Regions from separate parts of the Homo sapiens genome. Here regions 2 and 3 are each linked to region 1. Evidence: fine-mapped expression QTL. A gene starts in region 1. Each other region holds a variant in brackets. All regions are shown on one strand. Distances are from middle to middle. Region 1 holds the start of GUCY1A1 (guanylate cyclase 1 soluble subunit alpha 1). Region 2 overlaps GUCY1A1 (guanylate cyclase 1 soluble subunit alpha 1). Region 3 overlaps GUCY1A1 (guanylate cyclase 1 soluble subunit alpha 1).

Region 1 (8,188 bases):
CTCTGCTAAGAATGAAGAGTCTGGAGATAATCTGGGCAGACTAGAAAACCTGGAAAAATCCAGAATATGTACCATGGAGAATTTGATATGACATTAACTAAAAAAGAATAAAATAGCTGCACAAAGTATCCTCCAAGCTGACATTGGAGTGAAGCAATTGGTAGTTGGCTACAAGATACAGTTATGTCTCTCTTTGTCCAGCTAAATCAACAGCAAGGAAGGTAAAGCAAACATTAAAAGTGAAGCTGACATTGGGAAGGCAGGTTCTGGTAGGTCTAGTGGCAAGAGATTTAAGGGTTGGAGCAGAGTTAAAATTGTTGGTGAAATAAATAACAGTTTACAAGCAATTCTGAAGAGGCCACAAACTATATGACGGAAGAGCACACAAGGGTCTCTGTCACCAAGACCATAGCTCCATGTGGTAGCATCAAAGCATAAACAAGCCTTAATTCAAGAATAACAATGACAACAATGTTAAGCTCTTTAGACACCTACTATGCACCAAGCACTATGGATCCAACATTGGATACCGTGAAGGAGATTTGAGTTTAATGGGAGATGCAGACATTTAAACAGGTACTTTCAATGTCATGTGACATAGCAAAAGGGGATAAATAGATAGGCTGGACCTAGAAAAAAAGGTCAGGATTAAGAAATGGGTCTGCCCCATTTGCTTCCCCCCTAAGAAGGTGTTCACTCTCAAAGCCATTGTCTCGTGTCGACTTCCTGCTAATTCTTAGTATGGTGAGATAGATGACTTGGTATGTGAGTTAATTAATTTGACTTGGCCTCAATTTTTAAAATGGAGGATTTGTTTTAATGAAATATTGTTTAATGGCCAGAAAGCATACCAGAAGTTAGAAACTACAGGCTGTGAGGCACATTCTTGTGGCAAGGAAGAGCCTGCTCCAGAGTCCCTCAAGTTTTAAGATGTAGCCATTCTCTCCTACTGTGGGCTGAGAGGGAAGCCCACTCTACAGCTCTTCTTTCACCCCTCCAAAATAACTCTGTTCATCCTCTGTAAGCCTTCGAGGCTATAGGAAGATGAAGCCTATTGGCATGAACCCAGGGAAGAAGAAAAATTACATATATAATAGGTAAGACATTTCAAAATGTTCTGAAAGAAAATAAAAGAAGCAGATATGATTCAGGATAGCCAGGAAATTACTTCACCCAAAGTAAATCAACTAGTAACTAAACATTGACAAAAGCTCTTCTTATATCAAGTCAAGATGTAGACACCCAAAACAAACTATTGCAGAATGAATGTAGATGGTCAAGAGACAAACATATTTTTAATTATTAATACTTTGGGGAAAAAATTTGTTTTTACAAATGTGCAGAAAAGTAATAAATAGAAATGTTTAAGAAAAGTGGCTTGGGTAAATATTTTTAATTAACCAGTGTAAAAATAGTGCCTTCAAAATGGAATATTCTCACAAATAAAAGCCAAGCAACTTCTTAGTGAATCTGACAGAAAAAGTCATTCTCAGTAACAGCTTCCTCCAAAAATTTTTCCCATTAATGCACATACTTTTTGGCTTGTATTACTGAAATGTTGCTTTACCTTTCCATTTCCCCTTACTTGTAGAGATTCATTCTGATGGCTAATTTGATGTTTATTTAGTTCTGAAAAAAGGTTAATTAGAAATTATGGGGGTGCAGATCGTGTTATTTTAAACTAACCTGTAAAGCAAGAAATATTATCCTCAGTCCACACTCATTAGTTGCTAGCAAATGTAAATGCAGGATTTAATTTCCCTTGTATAGTTTCTGAAAAAATTCAAAGTTATGCAATATCAATGTGTCAATAAAAGTGATGTTAGATAAACATTTAATTTTTTTCAATTTCATTTGAAAAATATAACAAAATTCTTAAAATTCGGTCACAAAATATTTTACTGATGTATTTGTAATAGATATACTTTAATTTTAATATTATCACTTGTTTGTAGTGAAATATTAAAATAGCTTTTCAAAATGTCTTAAGAAAGATCCCTTAATAAGACATAATTATAAGAGTTATAAGTACTAAGCATTGTGAAGTTTTTCACACTTTTGTTTTTGGTATTGCCATAAATAAATAAAATAATTTTATATTTCCTTCCTCATTCTCCGAATGACAGAAAACGATTTTAATCATGTTATTTAATACCTGAATATCTAGAAGCAAGACCTTTAAGGGGCTATTTATATTTCATACACTATGAGACACTATACCAAGCATAAGTACTTTATATTTTGATTGGATTTCAAAGACAAAAATATAATTTTTATTTTCTGTCGTATAATAGAAAGAGATCTTACAATATAAAGTATAAATATACCTTATAAATATAAATATAAGGTACCCATCTATTAATTACAAATTTCTACTAAATACGTTCACAGACCTGTTTCCTAATACATTAAAATACATACATCTGGTCTATTTTATGTGAAATATTTAACTACGGTAACACCATTTAATTGTTCTAGAATTTTCCTTCTAGCCTATGTCTGCAGGCTGTATGTAGACAGCCTGTTGTTTTGATAAGAAAAAGTATGGCTTACGTGTTTTTACCCCGTGGTTCTTAATTTTCTATTAGGACACAGGTCCATTTTGGATATTTGACTATGTACTATCTCCCTTAAAATGCAGCCACTCTAATGTTTAAATACAATTTTAGGGACTTCACGGCCCCTTGAAGAAGATCACGGACCCAGTTGTTTAATGGCTGAACAAAGCACAGAATGCATAGACAACTTCCACTGAAGCAATAATAAAGCTTATATGTATAACTTTCAGACCAATTAAGTGTTGCTTATTTTGGTTACATCGTCGTTGCTATCATAACGAGTTTACTTTTTACCACTGTACATAATAGGGTACCTGAAATGATCACTCTTAAAGAAAAAATATGTATAGCAATTTTAGGAAAAGCAACAGACCACTTCTACACTCTGAACCAAGATAAAAAAAAATTATATCAAGTGCTTCTATGCTTACCCATATGTAACAGGAAAGTTTGACGTTTGTACAAAGACAGTTCTAGTAAGTGGTAGAGATGTATGAAATCAAATCAATTCATTAAATAGGCATTTAGTGAAATTACCATAGGAGAACTGATCCTAAAACATCACTATTGATATGTTATAAATGAAGTTCAAATGAAAGAAAAAAAAATCTGTCCTATTTAAAACTCAGCACTGTTTCCATAGGTTCCAAATCAAGATGCCTTCAACCAGTCATCGTTAAGTGAGCCATACAATCTTCTGGCTTACTTCAGAAGATGTAAACTGTTTATCGAGTGCAAAATGAAAGAATAACCATGTGAAAATCAGTGAGCAGAGAAAGACGCACGAAATCCATAGCCTGAAATCACATGACCACATTGCAACGCAGCCCCTCACACCATTGTCACTGTCAGGCAGCTCAGGCGACAGGGTGCAGACAGGCGCGGAGACCGCGGTGGCCCCCTGCTCACGCTTTCTCCAAGAGCCGCAGTCCTAACGAAAACAGAAATGGGACTGCTAAGCAGTAAATCATTTGTCTCTCTCGCACACACGCGCACACCTCGTGGAGCCGCTGGGCAGTTAGCCGGCTGCCTTCTCTGGGCAGCCCAGCGATCGCAGCTTTTGCTGTGGAGGAGGACGCGCCTCTTACCCACGCCGCAGCCGGCCGGGTGAAGTTGCCCTGAAGCCCGCCACCGCCTCCAGCCCTGCTGCCTCCGGGGTCCAGGCATCCCCCAGCTGCGCCCGCTCGCTTGCCTGCCGGCGCGCCGGAGGCCGCAGCGCTGCACGCGGCTGATGGGCTCTGGGGCCCAGGCGCCCTGGCCGTGGGAGACCAGCGGCCCCGGCGCGCCCCGCGCGTTCTCACGGCCCGGCCCCGCGAGCTCAGCAGCCGGCGCGGCGCTGCTCGGCGCCCACCCCCGTCTGTGCTCCTCCCTCGGGCGCCGCGGGTCCCCCGGGCCCTGGGCCGGCCCCTCGGGCGTCCTCTCCTTTCCTCTCGCTCCTCCCCAGCGTGGGAACCCGATGCTGGCTTCCCAGGGCTGGGCAACTGGGAGCGTACCGAAGGTTTCTCAGGAGAGGAAGGAGACCCAGCCCAAGCGGGGGTCCCGGAAGAGGGACCGCCTGTCTGAAGAACCCCGACCCGCGTGGGGATGCAGCGACCACTTACTTGGTGGCTTCGCACACCTCGGGGCTGTGCTTCCGGATCTCTAGCAGCTCCAGGGCGCGCCTCGCAAATCCGCACTGCGAATGGAGAAAGAGAGCAGGCGTCAGGGGTGGCAGGCAGTGAGCGGGAGAGGGGACCCTGCAGTGGCACCTGTCGGTCCCCGCGCGAGTGCACCCTGGGCACTCGCGGCAGCGGCACTTACGCTTGGGTCGCTCATGTCTACCTGTTCAACAGGCTAGGCGGGACGCGGCGTGCCTCGGAAACTGTATCGCCCGCGTGGCTCCCAGACAGTCCTCCTTGCCTTTGTCTCTCTGTGTCTGTGTCTCCCTCTTTGATCACCCCAAAGGAACCCTTGCAGTTCCTTTCCATAAGGCATTCGATTTTTTCAGACCTCTGCCCGCCTCCTCCCCTTCTCCGCACCGAAAGACTGAAAAAGAAAGTAGCAGCCAAAACGCACCATGGTGAGATCACGCCCGGCTGGGGTCTCTAAGCTCCTCCAGGCGCTCCCTCCCCCACAGGTGTCCTCCGCCTGGGTCTGTTCCAGGCTGCTCGCTGCTCTAGCGCAGGAAAAGTGTAGGAAAACTCTGCACTGAAACCTGCTTCTGGAAAACTGACTCTGAGCTGAGTCCCACCCACTAGGCTCAGACTAGGGCAGGGGAACTGAGTCCTGGTCTCTGCAGCCGCCCAATCGCCATAACAGAAATCACTGTGTGGAGACAGAGACCTAGGGGCAGGGGACAAAAAAAAAAAAAGAGAGAGAGAGAGAGAAAGAAAAAAATTGGAGGGGACTCCAGGAAAATTTGGCACACTTAAAAAGAAAAACAAAAACATGTCTTCTCCACTATGCACTGGTGTGGAAAAACTGTAGTTTTCCACAGTTAAAAACTCCAACATTTCTGCTGGGGAAGTTGACATCTGCGCTGATGACTCTCTTGTCCTGGTTTTCAGATTTGAAGCCAATCTACTCATTTGCAGATGCAGTTTTATGGTTACAGAGATTTTACATCTTTTCAGTAAGGTCTGGCTTCTGCCTGGTTCAGTGCATTTAGTTATATTTGTTACCGTTGTGTGTGTTGTGATATTATGCTTTTAGTCACCTTTCTGACTTAAAAAAATCCCATCATGCTGTTCCATTGTGAATTAACAATTAATCATGATCTTTATGTGATCCATTTTCAATTCAGTTCAATTCATGGTTATCTTCCTCTTTTATATCTCCCCCAAGTACACCATCTAATCTGGTCCCATTTGTAAGCTCATCACATTTGCAAACTTTCTCCCAGTCTTGCCTACTGTGCTTGCCTCATAGTGAACATTAATCAGAATCAGGAAAAAAATACATTTAAATAAGTCAGGAACAGTTAAGAAAGTCAGCAATATAAGCACAGGTAGTCACAGAAACTTTTGCCTTCCTGCCATCTCAGAAACTTCTCTTCCTCTACATTTAACCCATGATACTCTCTTAGATCAGTAGGACATTTGTACTAAGAATATTTAGAACTTCAGATGTAGAAGGAAACTTAAAAAATACACAGTAATTCATTAGTAAAAAGAAGAGGGAAGTCATACTATTTTTAAGTAAATGCTATGAACATTCAGAAGAAAATGAGATATTGTCTGACAGGGTTCATAAAGGAACAGTACTAGAGATAGGACTTGAAGGATTGGTTATGTTTGGAAAAAGATAAAATAGAGGACTTTTTTGTTGTTTTTGCTTTTCTCTGACAGAGGGAAACTTGTGAGCAAACATACAGAGGTTGGAAAGGCATGACACTGTTATTCAAGAAACAAGGAGTAATACCATCTGGTAGAAATAAAAAGTACATAAAGAAAAGTGTAGGAAGATACGGTGGAAAGATAGGCCGGGTTCAGATGCCTGATCCGCAGTTGTCACGTGTTGCAGGCTTGTATAAAGACTTTGTTGTTGCTGTTGTCCTCGTCTGTTGATACCATTACCAATATTCCTTTCATTCTGGAAAATGACTTGTTTAACCCATTAATTTCTACTTTTACCATTCTCAAGTTTTATGGCACACCAAACTCCTTGATTAGTATTGCATTTGACCCCAGTACATTCTGCCAGGAGCTACCGAGTTTTACTAAGAGTAGACTCTCAACTGGATAGTGTCTTGTCTTCTTCCTCCTCTATCCTTTCTGACTGTCAGACAATGGGTAAGAAGAGGAAGCAACCAATCTAAACATAAGGGTGGCTAGAACCACCAAAAGGTGACTGCAAAAGACATTCTGTAATCTGGATGTTTGATATGCTCTAAAAAAGTAACAAGAGTTCCTTGTTGTTAGGGAAATACTAATCTTCACAGCCTAATTTCCTAGTAATGAAAATGGTTCATAACGGGATTCACTAAAATGCCTGCTGAGTGGATAAATGAATACCTGAATATTTCATCATCTTCCAGGTCCAATCTTCTTTCTTATAGTTGACTTATGGGTTAAAACCTACTTTCCTCCACTTTATGGAGAATAAGAAAGTTGTCATGACAACTTAATAAAAATGTTAACAAGGAAAATTACTCAGTGTAAAGCAATCTCCTTAGCCATGTTGATGCTGGCAGAAAAGCTCAAGAAATTTTTATTTCCTCTCAAGATGCTTTGTTTTTCTTGTACCTACAACCCACAATTGACAACAGCATGAAAGCATTTAAATGTACATTACTTTCACACTTGCAAATGAAAGGACAATGGCAACTAGAGATAGTATCTAAATCCTTGCTACTCAGAGTATGGTTTCTATATTAGCAGTATCCCATAACCTACAATCTTGTTGGAAATACAGAAGTTCAGGCCCCTCTCTAAACCAACTGAATCAGACTATCCATTAAACAGAATCCTCAAGTGATTCCTATGCACATTAAAGTTTGAAAAGCACTGGTCTACTATCAAGGCATTAAGTATGATAAGCCTCAAAACACATCGTATGAATCTTTCTAAATTCAGGGATTTTTAGAACCTGCATCTTTATTTTTCTGGGTTACTATTGCCATGTCAGTTCAAATAAAGTAATGGGACTAATGGTTTCATCTCTACTGACTTTGTGGACCATAAAAAATCCATAAACCAAGGGGAATTAAGAACGAGATAGAGAACAGTAAAAGGGTAGAAATGAGAGAAGTGTTACATATATGTCAGGGTCAGAGCTTTGTTTTATTTTTAGCAAACGAACAAACTATGGATTGTATGGTTTACCAAATTAGGATAACCTCTCAAATATAAGAAAAATAAGATAAACTTCTGGCTCCTTATTTCCTCCTTTTCTTAGTATTATTCATTTTCAATTTGTTTTAATGTACCTGGTTAAAGTTTACACTGGTAACTTGCAGTAAGATGATGCAAAGACTCCAAAATGTCTCTTTTGTATGAATGTAAAGCTTTAGTTAGAAAAACTAGATCTTATTAGGTTGGCGTCCACGCATTTCTAGTCCTGGTATAGACATTCACAAAGCAGCCTGGACTGGAAGAGATTCTGATGGTAACAGAAATGCTGTCCACTATATTTTTGCCAAGGAGTTGGTGTTTGTGAGCAGTAAATACAGTGGTAGGTAGAATAATGGCACTCCAAAGATGTCTACCTGCTAATCCTTAGAACCTGTGAATATGCAATTTTACATGGCAAGAGAGAAGTAAGGATGCAGATAGAATTAGGGTTACTAATCAGCTAGTCTTGAGATGGGAATATTATTCCAGATTAGGTGGGTGAACCAAATGCAATCAAAAGGGTCCTTGTAAAAGAAAGATTAAAGCAATAGAGTCAGTCAGAGTCGGAGTGATGCTATGTTAGAAAGAATTGATAAGCAATTGCTGGCTTTGAAAATAGAAAGGGGGCTGGGTGCAGTGGCTGACACCTGTAATCCCAGCACTTTGGGAGGCGGATGCGGGTGGATCACTTGAGGTCAGGAGTTCGAGACCAGCCTGACCAATATGGTGAAACCCTGTCTCTACTAAAAATACAAAAAATTAGCTGGGCATGGTGGCAGGTGCCTGTAATCCCAGCTACTCGGGAGGCTGGGGCAGGAG
Region 2 (8,188 bases), 57 kb before region 1:
GAGTGGACATAGTAACACCACAGAAATTGGCAAATGCTGGAATCATGGATTCTCTACCTCATCCTCCAAAGCTGGTTTACCAGCAAACCACTCCATTAGCAATAGTTAAAATGAATAATCTAGATTTATGACTAGATTTACATTTTATCAAGGAAACTATCTCAGAAACATAATACTGAGTGGATTCAAGGCAAGTCTTAAAAGGATATGGATATGTTCACTGGGAATCTATTTTCCTCTGGCTTTATTTTTCTATCTGGCAGGACCTAAATGAAAGTGATATTCCTGCCTCTCTCTACCCATTTTCCTTCCTGGAAAGCAGAAGTGACATCTTATTGATGAGTTGTGGAGAAGCTGCTGAACATGCATCTGTATTTGGGAGACTGTCTGCAGAGAGTACATATTCTCAGCTCCTACAAGCTATAAAGCACTTAGGATCCATTGTGTCAGAGCGTGTAACAGGGACCATGTAAGAGTTTCTATTTATATTTTATTATATTAATATCTATTTACTTTACATTTTATTTTTTTATAAAACAGAAACCTGAAAGAAATATGGCAAAATGTTGATACTTAAATATTAGTATTGGCTACATGAGTGTCATCTTGTTTGCTTTGTTTTTTTATATGTTTAAAAATTAAATACAAAAATGTATGCAACTATAAGAGTCTAATAAATAAAAATGTATAAAACTATAGGTGATTAAAAAAATTTATCTATTATTTTTTCTATCTACAGCAACTCAACATTTCCTACTAAATACGGTAATGACAATTATAATCTCCTATTTAAATGTATTATATACATATATTCAGCCTTTAGAAGTGGCTTTAAAGTGCATCATTTGAATTTATTAAGGGCATTGCTCTAGATTGCACGTCTGGTAAGTGCTGTTTGTGGGACTCTAAGGCATGTCTTCTGAATACAACTTCTATGCTTTTTAAAGACACTTAACAGACAAACATAATTAGAATGCTATGGAGTTTGAAATGTTCATTATATTGTCTTTTTAAAAAATCAGAATATATAAGAAAAACCATTTAGAAAAACAAACCATTTCGATGAAAGCTTGATGATAGCAACACCCAAAAAAGGCAGCAACAGCCCAGATGTCCTCATAGGTGGACATTTTTCTCTACACCTTCTTCACCAGACACCATTTTTCCGCAAATTACTGCATCAATGCTCCAATTCTCTGTTATCTTTCCTATATTCCTTTATTCACTTTGTTCCTTCTTCTTACAGAAGTCAATTCTTGCTTCTCTAGCACAATGTGCTCAGACTTGTCCTACAAATAAGAGATTCTAGGCCTGTTTACCCCACAAACTGGACAGCATCCATGTATCCTCCCCACTTGCCATTTTTGTTTCTAATGATCCCTGGATCACCACATAATCCTCTAACATTGACCCACTGACCTGGAACTAATGTAGTAGACCTGGATCCACTGACTCACTGATCTAATGTAGTCTCTACTAGTCTCTATTAGTTTTCCTTACTTCAAGAATGCAAACAAAATGTCGAATATTATCCCCTAAAATTAAAGTAAAACTCCTGACAATGTTTAAAAAACAGGAGTGTATAACTGTCATTACACTGCTACATTCTGAATCACTGATTAGAATTTGGAAGTGGAAATTTGAAGATACAGGTTTTTTTTTGGTATAGGTATGTATTCTGTGTCCTAAATTTACCTGTATTTCAGAAATATATCATGGAAGCTACATTCAATATTAAACAGATTATTTTATTATTAAAGAAATATCATTCCAGAATTTAATGTATCATCAATAAAGCTCTCCAAAGAAAACTGCATTTTGTGCTTGTACACCTTCTTTAGCAGCCGCTTCTTGTACTATAGTTTGAGTAAAACTAAAATTATGCCCCTACCGTTGACTAAATTTCCCAAAGCATTGGATGTTTAATTGAAATTTATTTATATTATTTTAAGTTTTCCCAGCATATGGAAGAAAAGTGAAGTATCTCTGAAAGAAAGGAATTTAAAATGTTGTTAAAAGTATTTAACATTAAGTATTTATATTTTGCCTAAATAAGACAGTATTAACTACTGCTTTCCCTTAGGCAAGGCATAAATATCTCATATACGAGAATAAAAAGAAAGTAAACTATTATTGAAATCAATACAAAAGGAAAAAAGCTATATCATATTTGTCTATAAAAAGTAGAAATGACTTCAGCAAATGAGCTGAAGTTCAATATAAATTAAATTAAAATTTCAATGTCATTCATGCATGTGTATATAAACGTAACTGAAACAAAGACAGAAATGTTAATAGTTACTATCTCTGGGTAATGAGATTATGACTTATTCCTATTACTTACTTTATAATTTACTAATTTTGTAAATTTTCTGAAATGGGCATGTGTTACCACAGTAATAAAAAATTTATTTAAAAGATAACACCATCTATGCTATAAAAACCTATATGTGCATTTCTAGTAACATTGCCAATACAGTGAATCTAAGACTTAAGTCATGAGCATTGTCCTGTTGTCAGAAATATATGTCAACATGTTGTGGTCCTCTGCTGAAATACATGAGATCCTGAATTATATTTTGAAGAAAAATAAGTAGCTAATATCAGTGCCCCCTAACATGACTCAAGACCACCAGACTTTGAGATACAAAATGCAAGAATTTAAAAAGTTTAGTTTCATACTGTTAAAAACAATCAATATAGAAGAAAAAGGAAAATATGCTTTTTATATGTAGCAGTTTTGTTTTAAGGTAGGATTCCTCAGTATGCACATATACACATAACACATCACTTAACATTGAAAGAGAAACACAGGTGTCAGTGAAAGGATGGGCAACTGACTCCTACTTAATAGGATGATTCCTCTTAATGCCTACAGAGAGAGTAGAATCATATTATCTCAAGGCATGGATTCTTATCCCTACCTATTATACCCAGTAGGACCATAGGCCAATTACCATTACAATGAACCCCAGGGATTTTTCCAATTCTCAGGTTATACTGAGTTGTTTTCATACCCAGGAGTCAACAGTTAACCAGTAAATACTTCTTGCTTTCCTTCTGTGTTTCACGCGCTGATCTAGGAGCTGGGAATATGGAATGTGTACCACAGGAAGCTAACATTCTAAAAAGGGAGGCAGGCAATCAACACATAAATAAATACTGCATAAGACAATTTCAGATACAGGTGTGAACTGAGAAGATGAAATAGGATAATGAGAGGGTATGTGAGGAGAAGGTTGTTGCTATAGTTATGATAGTTAAGGAGTGTCTCTTTAAAGAGAGGAGAAGAAATGATCACTGTAAGGTCGATGGTCTGAGTAACTAGGTGGATGGTGATATCATTTTAAGGTGATTGGTAAGCTTGCCTGGGTGGGAAGTGGATTTCATCAGTCTGTGTGGGAAATCACTCATTCTAATTCGGTCCAGTTCATTTTAATATGTGAATTAGTCATCCAAGTGGAAATATGGAATAGGATATATGAGTCTGTAGCTCTGCAGAGAATCACAGGATGGGCGAAAGATTTTTTTTAAAAAATAGTTAGAGTCATAAAAGTTCAGATACAGAAGATAACAGGAAAAGAGGCTCTGAGCACGGCAACAAAGGTTTGGTAGGGAAGGAGTACCAAGAGAAGACACTGAGAAGGTGTAGACATGGGGTAGTGAGAAAACTAGGTGAATGTGGTGCCAAAAATTTAAAGAAGAAAATGTTTAAATGAGGGAGTTCTCAGCCTATTCAAATGCTTCTGAGAGGATAAGGAGAGAAAACTGACAGTGATTTTATTTTAGCAGGGCACAATGATGACCTTGATAAGAACCGTTTGAGTGGAGTAAACACTGACTGGAGTGAGTTGAAGAGAAAATAAGAGGTGGAAAAAATACAGATAGTGAGTATAGACAACTTCTTTCAGTTTTGCTATAAAACAGAGCAGAAATT[G/T]AAAATTGTAGCAGAAGCCGGACTTGGAAACAAGGAATTTTTTATTTTTCAATTCAGAGCTTTAATAGATATGGTTGTATTCTGTTGGGAATAATCATTTCATCAAAGAGAAATTGATCATAGAGAGTTAATTTCCACAGAAAAGTTATTGAGAAGGTGAGAGGAAATAGCACTGAGAGTAAAACTGTATCAACCAGGGGCAGGAGGGGAGCTGGGCCAATGTAATGGGAACAAAGAAGGAGGAGATGAGTACTGGGGTAGCTCTGCTGAGAGAACCTACAGCACAAAGATGGCAAAGCTCCTGTCTGACTTCTATTCTGGTGGTGAAATATGAGGCAAGATTATCAACTGAGAGTCTGGGCTGGAAAGGAAAGGATGCTGGTGCCTTAAGAAGGGAGAAGACCAGGTGCATTGGCTCACGCCTGTAATCCTACACTTTGGGAGGCCAAGGTGGGCAGATCACTTGAGGTCAGGAGTTCGAGACCAGCCTGGCCAACACGGCAAAACCCAGTATCTACTAAAAATACAAAAATTAGCCAGACGTGGAGGCGGGCGCCTGTAATCCCACCTACTTGGGAGGCTGAGGCAGGAGAATCACTTGAAACTGGGAGGCAGAGCTTGCAGTGAGGCAAGACTGAGCTGCTGTACTCCAACCTGGGCCATAGAGCAAGACTTAGTCTCAAAAAATATAAATAAATAAATAAATAAATAAATAAATAAATAAATAAATAAATGCAGAAGAAGAAGGGAGAAGATGCTATTAAAGAGTTATCTCTGAGAATAGGAAAGCTAACTTGCTTAGTATAATTTAGCTACTGTATAGATCTGAAAAACTCTTTTGTTACTTAAGAGTTTCCAATATAATGAGACAAAATGTACATGAAAGATATATTTCTAGTTACCACGGATTGGTTTATTTTCCGGTTAAAGGTGGATAAGTGATAACAAAATGGTAGATTTTATTGACTCAGGCTGTATACTACATGTTGTCAAGGCGACAGTGAAAATAAAGGTTCTTCTGATGCTAGATGACACGTGGCTCCTCTGACCGTGTTAACACTTGCTGCCAGTCCATAAAACTGCAATCTTTGAAAAGTGCTCGATGACCAGCTAGTTTTCCTCTGGTAAATTCTTCCCTGTATGATAGGGAATTTGACTGGCTGTTGTCCTTGATTGCAGGGAGGGAGCTTCTAAAACTCTTGGATTTTTTGAGTTATAGGAGTATCTGTTTTCCATGAGGCCCTTGGATCACTTTTGAGTTTATATTAATGAGATGACTCAGAATGGGGGCAGGGCCCCAGAAAAATCAATCTTGTGGATAGAAGGTTGGGGTTTTGTGTTAGCCTAACCTCTGGGGAGGAGAGTGGGGGTGGTGACTGAGTTCAATCACATGGCCAATGATTCAACGAATCATGCCTACATAATGAAAACAATAAGACTCCATACACCAAACTCAAAGCTCAATCAGGTGGAGCTTCCTGGCTTGTGAACCCACTGAGGTGGCTGGAGGGAGATAAGTTCTGATTCTATGGAAGCTCTGCATTTGGGACCCTCCCAAACCTTACCCAAACTGTTTCTTCATTTGGTTGGTTCTGATTTGTATCCTTCGAAATAAAACTGTAATAGTAAGTATAGCAATTCCCTAAGTATTGTGAGTCATTTTAGATAATTATCTAACTTGAGAGGTTCATGGGAACCCCCAAAATTGTAGCTCAGTCGTCTAAATGCATACTTAGGTCCTGAAGGGTGGCTGGCATCTGAATTAAGGGCAGGCTTGTTGGGTTCTGTGCCCTGTAACTTGTGGTTATGACTGTGCTGAGTCTGGGTGTTTACTGCCAGAACTGCACTGCAGTGTACTAGTTGATGTCAGAACACCTATCAACATACTAAGAGTATTAATATGTGCTTCTAAAAGAAGAATGATGGAAGACTATGTAATATCTGTCATGGATTTATGGCTGGGCCACAAACACCTCAGGCAAGTCATTCTTAGGAGGCTAATAAGCAGTGTAAAAAAGTTAAAGTGAGGATGATAAAAGTTATCACGTTTCTTTTTTCCTTACGACTAAGGAAGAAAAAAGTTATGAAGAATGAATCAAATCAGTGGGGCAAATGGCAATTGTATATAAATAAAAACAAGAGATTTTAGGTGTTTAACATAATTACTACCTGTAAGTTGTTGGGCTGACATTGATTTTTCGTGGTACACTGCAGGACTCAAATTTGTTAGCCAGAGTGACATTGTTTCCAAAAAGACAGTAACGGGGCATTTTAACTCCAACGACGCCAGCAAAAACTGATCCAGAGTGCAGTCCAATTCGCATCTGAAAGCAAAAAATAACATGATGTTCCCAGTCACTGGTAAAACACTTCCTACTCGTCAGTGTCGTTTGAATACCGTCTAAATTATTTTACCATTCACCCTCAGGACACCACCCCTTTCCTCAAAACCTTCAGCCAACTTCCCTCTACTCCTCACATGCAATTAAAAATTACTAGTGCAGAATCAACAGTCACACTTCTTAACTCTTTTCCATTTAGGTTTATTACACAAACCATCTTAATTGTGTCTGTCTTCAACATCTGAAACAAGTTTCCATGCACAGGGATCATAGTAACCACAGCAACATAGCAAGGGGGATATGAGCTGTTTATGTGAAACTGCCACCTCTCATTCAAGTGAGATAGACATAATTTCTGGACTCCTGGAATCATTTTCCCAAACACTGACAAAGAAGGGCAAATGAAGCTAGCTCTAAGGATATTAAATATATCTTTTAGACATTTTACCTCAAAATAGCTTTATACCAAACACTATCCCACTGTTCTAATGACTTACAACTGAGGAAATGAAATTGTAATATTTAAGCAGAAAATGACAGAGGAAGCAGAAAGTGGAAGGTACTTGAGTCCAATGACGATGACAATGTCTATATACATGAAATTAAAAATCCATACTGATGAAAGATCAGATTTGTGCCATGCCTAGATATAAGAGGCAGTCTGGGATGTGTTGTGGCAAAATTTTAGGAATTCTGGAAGTCTCCAATGATTTGGAAAGCCACTGAGACAGAATGTTTTATTTTATTTATTTTTTAGAGACAGAGTCTTGCTCTGTCACTCAGGCTGTAGTGCAGCGGTACCATCATAGTTCACTGTAACCTCGAACCCCTGGGCCCAAATGATCCTCCCATCTCAGCCTCCTGAGTAGCTAGAACTACAGGCATGCACCATCACACCTGGATAAGTTTTAAATTTTTTGTAGAGACAAGGTCTTGCTATGTTGCCCAGCTGATTCTCAAACTCTTGGGCTCAAGTGATCCTCCTGCCTCAACTTCCCAAAGTGCTAGGATTACAAATGTAAGTCACCTTGCCTAGCCAAAGCAGGATATTTAACAATGGAATCTTCAAAGGTCTGATTACTTGATGATCTTAAAAGATTCACAAACACTTAAATTACTGCTACTACAAAACAAGCTAAAGTGGAGATATTTTAAATGATGATGATACCATGTTAATTATTTTCAAACTCTTTGTTTACTCAACCATTTTAAAAAGTTGTATTAGATGTATGCGTTTTGAATGAAGACCAAGAACTCAGTAACTTGGATATAATTTAGAAATCAGAAGAATTCAGTTATGTCTAGTTTTAATAACTAATTTCAGATATCTGCTAGAAACTTTCCAGACTCATTTACTTTTAAGATGTCATATGAGTTCTACAAAATTTTCAAACAAAAGCACTAGACTGTGAATCAGGAACTTTGTATTCTAACAAGCTCTACTAGTAACTGGTAGTCTGGCTTCCTTAAGTCTCTTTACTTCCCTCCGATCATGTTTTCACCTATAAAATGCAGGGGTTTGATTATTTTTAAAGACCTTTCTTCATCAAAGTTTTACTTTAACAAGCAAAACTTAGATGTCTGTTATATATCTGGCTTTGTCTCTTTTAGGAGAATATTAATTTACACATTTAGCAAGTGATAGATAGATAGATAGATAGATAGATAGATAGATAGATAGAATAAAGCTCTTCTGCTCATAAATATCAACTATGACTTCAGCATATTTAGATTGAGGAATTTTTGCTTTCTGTGAGCACTCTTCTGGTTAAACCAGTTTTTCTTCCTATACTTAGTTACTCCAGCTTATTATATATTAAATTTACCATAGCATTTTTATCTTGTTTCATAATTAAAATGTAAATATATTCTGCTCGTAAAAACCGAAACGATGCAGACAAGGCAAGTG
Region 3 (8,188 bases), 29 kb before region 1:
TAAAGAATAGATCTGATTAAATTATTAAAACAAGTACTTTTGCCACAAATATACCATATATGAATACTTCAGGAAAAACTGCTATTTGATGCAACATTGCTGTCAACAATGTGAATTTTAATAAAAATATCATTGGTGTGGTTTATGGATAAGTCACTATTTTCATTGGCTTTTTAATTTTCCTACAGTGCTTAACGTTTTTCTAGACCAATAATATTTTAATTCATAAGATAAATTGTAATACTGTTTCTTTTTCTTCTTTCAACCTAATATTCTAGAACACATCTACAGACCTCGTGATTCTCTTCAAATCCTACTCTTACTAGGTACTTGATTTGGGATCTTATCATTTATGTAAGCATATCCAATTCAATTATTTCAATTCAGTAAGTGGTTTCTGATTTGCTTTGACTGTGGCTCCATTAAAAGCTCCTTCAAGACAGTATGCCTGAAGGAGCTTACAGAATTATTGGGAAACAATACCCATGAAAAAAGAGCAAACAATATTATATTATGAAGAGCAATGGGTTGTGAATGAAATGCAGAGAGTTTTCCATTTCTCCAGTTATCTTTTGCTTTAAGCAAGAGATCTAAATTTATGTGTCTCTATTTCTTAAAATAGAAATGATAAGTTTGCATTAGATGATCAAGAAGACTTTTTAAAGCTCTAGTATTCCATTACTTGAGAACGACCTCTCTCATGTTACATTTTCTAAGGATAATACATTTTTATACTTGCCTGTTCACTAATAAAAATATAACCAGGAAGTTAATTCTGATTATCTAAAACAAAAATTGTGATGTCAAATGCTATTTTAAATATCTTCTTTTGTATTATTAATACAACTGACACTAAATAGCAGTCTAAGCATTAAATCTATAAACTTAACAAATAATCAGTAAAAAAACATAACAAGTATTTATCAAAGATAAGCAGATGTTTGAAGTCATCTAGATTGAGGACTACACAGCTCAAATGTATTCAACACTGGAACATTTACTGCCATAACGATAATATCTCAGTTGGAGAGGAGTTTTAGTTACTAATGCCAAACATACCTCTTCCATCTCCTATAGTCTTGCCCTCTCTGTTACATGACACTGTAGTCAAATCTTAATGCTTATTCTTACAAACTCATGAACAAACAACATAGACTACTAAATTTTTTATATACAATTTTAATTTGGTATTGCATCCTAGTCTTTCAGTACATTTTCCTAGGAAAAAGAGAAGGGAAGTTTATAGCAGCCTGTATGGCTCTTCAGGATCAGGAGAAGGCACACCACCCAGAAACTTCTCCCTCAGCAGGAAAAGAGAGGAATGGAACATGCACATCCATAGAAAATGTTTGAGAGGCTCTCAAAATCTCTAGCTGAGCCAATTGGTGAATGTCTTTTCCTGTGAAAACCAGTCTGAAAAGAAGCAAAGAGGTGACTGCATACTCAAGTGTGCAGGCACCAATGCAAAGCTACAAGGGACACGAAAAATCAGGGAAATATGATACAACCAAATAAATAAATAAATAAATAAATCTACAGTAACCAGCCCTAAAGAAATGAAGAACAATGAATTACCTGACAAAAAATTCAATATAATGAAATTTAGTGGGTTATAAGAAAACACAGACAGACAACTAAATAAAATAAGAAAACTATGCATGAGCAAAATGTAAACATCAACAAAGAGATAACCACAAAAATAGAGCCAAGTAAAAATTCTGGAATGAAAGAATAACTGAACTGAAAAACTCAATGGAAAGCATTAACAGCAGACTTAAGCCAAAGAATCAGCAAATTCAAGAGAGGTCATTTGAAGTTATTCAGTCAGAAGGGCAAAAAGAAGAATGAATGAAAAAGAATGAAGGAAGCCTGTGGAACTTTTGGTGGCACCATCAAGTGAACCAGAATTTTTTTGTTGTTGTTGTTGAGACAGAGTCTCGCTCTGTCGCCCAGGCTGGAGGTGAACCATAATGTTTTTTAAAAAAGAGTCCAATATGTGTATGACTTCCATTGCAGAAATTCAAAATTTACCAAACAAAATGATAAAGCCAACATAGTAAGGACAGGATTCAGGGAAAACATAGAAGCAATCTCAGCTTCCTCATCATCACCTTTGGTTCATTTCTGTTCATTTCACTCTGTCCTTGAAATGAGAGCACCGATTGTTTCCCAGACTGTGCTACAAACCAACTCCCTGAGGAGGGCTCTATCCTTTATCCTAGCCAATGCTGGCTGTCTAGCAACTAGAGTGTGGTAAGAATAATTAAACATTTCCATTTCAAAGGTTATCTGCCAAAGTACTATTGTGTTAATATTATATCTGAAATAAACTCCCTCAACTTTCTGCTAAGTCTAATTTATCCATCTTTCAAACTTCAATTTCTTCTTTCTCAGTCATTCCAGCCTGGACTGTTTACAGCAGGAATTAATTGCTCTACCCTTTGAAAGCTGTGTAATTTTGGTCAAGTCACTGAACTTCCCTAGCACTTCCTGGGAGTGAAACAAGATTATCTGTTAAATTCCTTTCAGTTCTGAAAATCAGCCAGTCCATGTTTCTTTGGTGCTTTGCACACAGTAGAGGGTTGGTATTGAGTCAATTAAAAATTATCAATGTATTATGTTAGCTGGTGTCTGATTAAGTCAATGTCCAGCCAAATTCATAGGTTAAGCAAATCTATATAAAACTATGAAGACTGACAGAGGGAGGAAGACATCATGAAGACCTTCAACTGCTCTTCTATTTATTTAGGTCTGTGTCCTCTTCCCAGAAGTTTCCTTCAAGGTGGATTGACAGAAGGTGCTCTAGATCTCAACATGACACTATGCTATGCAGCTTGCAGGGCTATATGAAGAAGTGTGAGACCTAATAACACGCAGGTGTAGGCAATCACAGGCTCATGACTCCGACCCAAGGGAGAAAGTCAAGACTGGCTTGAGCAGAACTTCAGAATCAGAGCAAGTGGCCAAGGGAGATTTTCACAACTCTGAAAACTGGCAGGGGACGTATGATGCTCTTTAAAATTAGGAGAGAAAATTTGAGCAGAAAATAAGTTATTCTTTGAAGAATTTAATTTTAAGATAATAGCTAACAACTACTGATCACTTATGTTATGGCAAGAGCTATGGATGGTTTCACTTAAAACTCATTAAAACTGTAGAAGGTGGGTACTACTATTATTTCCATTTTAGGGATAAGGAAGCTGAGGTAAAGAGGCATTAAGCCTGTTGCCCAAAATCATAAAGTTTGTCAGACTGCAGTGTTCTTTTGAAAAGAATTCAAGATCATAAACATTTTAAGATAAAACACAACTTAAGAACACAATTGCTTTAAAAGAATATTTTTATGTGTTTCAAGAAAATATTCTACATTTATTGTAGCCTTGAAAGTGAGAAAGGAAGTGTTTAAATTTTCCTTGGAAAAACATTCTTCTACAATTTCAAAGTATTACAATTTCAAAATCTAAAGAGCACGCACTCACCTCTGGGAAAATCAGTTTGCAAATACTCTCTGCCAAAGTGTGAAGATAGACTCGGCTCCGACTGGTTTTTCTTTGAGGAAGACTTTCTTGTATGTTCTTCTCAGGAATGTCTTGACAGATGGGCACGGTTGCTTTGCAGCTCTCTGAGCTTCCTGCTGCCTCCTCTGAAGACTCGTTAGGAACTTGACCTGGTGCCAGTAAGGAGAAAGGACACTCTCCTGTGATCTTGAGATCCTTGAGCTTCGTGCAGAACATGGTGTTGGTGTCTCTTACCCTGCTG[C/T]GATCTCCTCCTGATGAGCTGTAGTTCTTATATGAGACTGACAAACAGAAGCCACTATCAATTCAAGGACACTGGTAACTGGGATGTCTATGGACAGCAAAAAGTCAGAACAGAAAGAGGAGTGACTTTATGCACGGATGAAAACAGAAAAAGACAGGTGAGCAAAAGCAATAGTCATGTCATTCTCAAGTTAAAAAAATTCTGCTGGAAATGCCAATTATAAAATGAGCAGGACATTTGGCAAAGATCTTTACTTAATATGTGTGAATTTCACAATATTAGCAAAATACTTCCTCTTACTATTTTAACTTTTAAAATAAAATATATTTTTCCAAAATGTTCTTAGCATCAACTACTGATTTCCATTTTTTACACTCATCTGGTCCAGTTTGATTTCACAAGAGTGGAACACCACGGTTTTATGACAAAAGCCACATCTAAGTTTATGTTTTATTCATGCTTGTACTACTACATTCTCATTATGCTCTCCTTTCTGAAAAGTCAGAACAGTAAAAACCAATGGCTTCCAAAAATACCTAAAGCAAAACAATATGTATAATGATCCCCAAGTATATGTTTTCAGATTTGAAACACCAACTTAGAAAAAAAAAGTTCAATGAAAAAAAGTTCAATGAAGATGATTATGGCAAAAGAAAAATTTTATCACTTTAAATGGTAAAGCAATTTAAAAATATTATCATCAAAATGAAAAAAACATCAGAACTCCTGATCCCCAAGAACATACCATGGGATTTGCAGGGGTCTCTGGAAACAAATCTAGACTGCGGTGAGTCAAAGACTACCCCACTTCCCACTGAAATCATAAGCATCGCCATTCCAGCATATTTCCCCCAGTACTTTTGTTTTTGTTGATGCTGTGGTTGTAAATTCTCCCACAATTCACAACCCATTTATCATTAGCTATTTGTTACTGGAACTGTCAAGTTGTGAATTCAGTTCATCAACAATACTAATTATCTTGATTAACTGGGTCTACCAGCTATTTCCTACTCTTGGGGAAGAAAAACAAAGAGTGGAAAAGAACCCATATTTGCTAATCCCCACATGTACTAAGTACTATGTGCCTGACACAGTGCTGGGAACTCTATGTTTACAATTAATCCTCACAGCAACCACATAACACAGGTATTATTATCCCCAATGGGTGAGAAGCTCAAAAGTTTAGGTAGTTTTCTCTCATTTCAAATGCTAGAGAATGACTGAACTAGGGTTCAAATGCAGATTCAGCTGACTCCAAAGCCAATGTGTTTTCTATAACTCCAAACTAATATTACTAAATTAGAGCAGTTTCTACACAATCGGGCTTTGTTAATCAACTTAGATTTTTATCTTCAAAATATGGTTTACAAATTTATATTAAAATTCAGTGAGGAACATAATTTCCTGTTCATTGGCTAGTGGTATCTGAAACATCCAAGATTCAGCCTTATATTTGAATCTTTAGAGTTGAAGTTCAATTAGGTTTTTTTTTTTTATTTTCTATGCTCCTCAATGCCCTTAATATGTTCCCATAAGCAACAGCCTGTAAATTGTCACATGTAAGTCATCTAATAAGTTTAGAACAATGAACAACTCATTTTCTGAACTGGGACAAACAAGGAAGCTAAATTCAGTATCTGATCCCCATGGGATGTCATGGGACATTAGGTATAGAGGAAGATTATGGATGCTGGCAGGCCAGAAGAAGCTGCCAAGGCTCTGTTACCTAAAGTTATAAACAAAATCTATGCTCATATATAATTTATGGAACTTCAAGAAGGGACAAAAGAAAATCCTATGCATTTATGAGTAGAAAATTTGTTCTGCCAGAACAGAATGGAAGCGGTCTACCTCAATAGACTACTGAAGTGGTCCAAAGGTAATATGGCTATAGGGGGAATGATTACTTAGGTTCTACAAAACCTAAATATCTAATAATTTTACCCACATTTGTTTTGGGACTTAATGTAATAAATATTTGTTTCTTAGTCTTTACTACATCTCAACATAATTCTATTATTGTTTAATAACTTCTCTTCTGATTTAAGCTTCAAATCAATGATCAGCTTTAAGCTTTAAAAGTGCTTTAACCTTTTCTGTAAAGGGCCTGAGAATAGATACTGTCAGCTTTGCAGGTTACATGGTCTTTATTGCAAGTATTCAACCCTACCATTGCAGTGTGAAGCCAGCCAGAGATGATATACAAATGAATGGGCACAGATGTGTTCCAATACAACCTTGTTTGTAAAAGCAGACTGTGAACATAGCCAGTAGTTTGCTGACCCCTGGTTGTAGAAAACCGAGTATATTAACTAAAGCATTTTAATTAAAATATAATTTTGACTATAGGAGCAAAGTTATTTCCTCATCTCCTCTAGTCACTCCTCTCCAAAAATAACAGCCTACGCAGGTCCAGTTTTGGTTGGGGTTGGGGAGCTTGGAGAGTTTTTTTCATTATTATTAGTAGAGAAAAGGTCTCACTATGTTACCCAGGCTGGTCTGTAACTCCTGGGCTCAAGCAATCCTCCTGCCCTGGCTTCACAAAGTGCTGGAATTACAGGCATGAGCCACTGTGCCTGGCTGGGATCCAGTTTTTGAACAACTTCAAAGTAATCAAAAAGAGTGTAATAGATAATACTAAATAACTATTTATACAAATAATAGTACCACTATTTTGTATTAATTTTCAGGGAAAAGAGCTTTATTAACTGAATGCCACTATTTCAGTTATATCAAAATCTAACTACAATAACTAGCAAAAAAGGGTACATAAAAACAAAAGGAAGACAATAAGAAATGGAAGATTATAGGTTAGGTCTGAGGATGGCATAGAATTATTACTAAAACGAATTATTCTGGTATATATTAGAATTTTAGTATTGGACTTAGAAGTTTGCCATAATATAGTTTATAATAGATCTTTCCATTAAACTTAACTCTCTCATTCACATTGGATTTCAACGCTGGTACCCAAGCCCAATATTTTAATTCTTATCTTCCTACTGAATCCAGCTGCAGTAGAATACAATTGACCAGTCAACCTTCCTTGAAATAATTTCTTTTCCTGTACTGCACGGTACTATAATTTCCAGGAAATAAGCCGAACAGTGTTTTTTATTAAAGCAAAAACAGCCAACAGGAAGTAAGTTGTGCTTACTTTAAGATAGTTAAGTGTTTAGTCTCATTAAATTACATATGTATAAACAAACTAATTAGCATTCTTCATCTGCTCAACTGATGAAATTACACTATGAAGCAGATGCACGCAGTGTTGATACCTTGGAAACCTGTTTGTCTTGCTTTTGCCTGCCAGGAATACAGAATACAGAATATTCCTGGCAGGCAAAAGATTGTTCCTCAAGTAAACTAGTGATGATTTTTATGGGTAACGTTAGCAGTAACTTCAGAAATGGTTTGGTCAGTGGGTGAATTCAGTACATAGTTGGTTGTAGAGATGGTAGTAACATGGTAAGGGAAAAACAAATAAATTAAAATAATAAATTTGGCGACAGGCCTTGGCAAGAAGTGGAATAATATGTTCTCAGAAACTTGAAGAGGTACTTCTCATTCCAAAAGTTGATAATTAAACAGCCTCCAAATAAACTTAATGCTCACTCTCTTTTTACTAGTGAGTGATTAACTTTGCCGTGGTGAGAATAATGACCCAGCTACTGGCCTAGTATTAATAACAGGGACAGATTATTGTGCAAGTAAGGCAACCCTCAATCATTTAAACTCTAGAATTTAAAATTTAATGAAGCATGAACTTTTTTTTTTTTTGTTGGAGACAGAGTCTCACTCTGTCATCCAGGCTGGAGTGCAGTGGCATGATCTTGGATCACTGAAACCTCCGCCTCCTGGGCTCAAGCAATTCTTCTGCCTCAGCCTCCCAAGTAGCTGGGATTACAGGTGGCAGCCACCATGCCCAGCTAATTTTTGTATTTTTAGTAGAGATGGGGTTTCGCCATGCTGGCCAGGCTGGTCTCGAACTCCTGACCTCAGGTGATCCACGTGCCTCAGTCTCCCAAAGCACTGGGATTACAGACGTGAGCCACCATGCCCATCCTAGAATTCAATTAGGCATGAACATCTTGTTTACTACATGTAACAAGATCATGTAGACATGTAACAATATCATGTAAGGAAAACACCCCTTACCACACTCTCTGGCACTGATACACTTTTCTCCAAAAGCAGGTCTTAAGGAGCAGATGAAAAGTTAGAAAAAGACACTTTTCAAAAGAAGGCATACATGTGACCAACAGTCATGTGAAAAGAAGCTCAACATCACTGCTCATTAGAGAAATGCAAATCAAAAACCACAATGAGATACCATCTAACACCAGTCAGAATGGCTATTATTACAAAGTCAAAAAATAACAGATGCTGAGAAGGTTGTGGAGAAAAAGGAATGCTTTTTAATTTACAC

Evidence for each region. PIP is the estimated chance that this variant, and not a neighbour inherited with it, causes the effect. A credible set is the group of variants that fine-mapping cannot tell apart.
Region 2: its variant is the best candidate, but not a certain one, in a credible set for the expression of GUCY1A1 in whole blood (INTERVAL, PIP 0.85).
Region 3: its variant is the best candidate, but not a certain one, in a credible set for the expression of GUCY1A1 in whole blood (TOPMed, PIP 0.64).

Annotation. Positions count from the first base shown.
Region 1 is chr4:155,663,391-155,671,578 of GRCh38, reverse strand. It overlaps GUCY1A1 (guanylate cyclase 1 soluble subunit alpha 1), which reads right to left and starts at 4,731. Exons shown (of 10, transcript NM_001130682.3): 1 at 4,614-4,731; 2 at 4,160-4,233.
Region 2 is chr4:155,720,111-155,728,298 of GRCh38, reverse strand. It overlaps GUCY1A1 (guanylate cyclase 1 soluble subunit alpha 1), which reads right to left. Exons shown (of 10, transcript NM_001130682.3): 9 at 6,107-6,261. It overlaps LOC105377506 (a long non-coding RNA gene), which reads left to right. Exons shown (of 8, transcript XR_007058484.1): 6 at 323-469; 7 at 740-765; 8 at 3,793-3,881. Among named protein-coding and RNA genes, the nearest start is that of GUCY1B1, 35 kb to the left of the region's middle. The variant G/T (reference allele first, on the strand shown) is at 3,938.
Region 3 is chr4:155,692,414-155,700,601 of GRCh38, reverse strand. GUCY1A1 (guanylate cyclase 1 soluble subunit alpha 1) reads right to left here. Exons shown (of 10, transcript NM_001130682.3): 3 at 3,480-3,846. The coding sequence starts at 3,734. Among named protein-coding and RNA genes, the nearest start is that of GUCY1A1, 30 kb to the right of the region's middle. The variant C/T (reference allele first, on the strand shown) is at 3,760.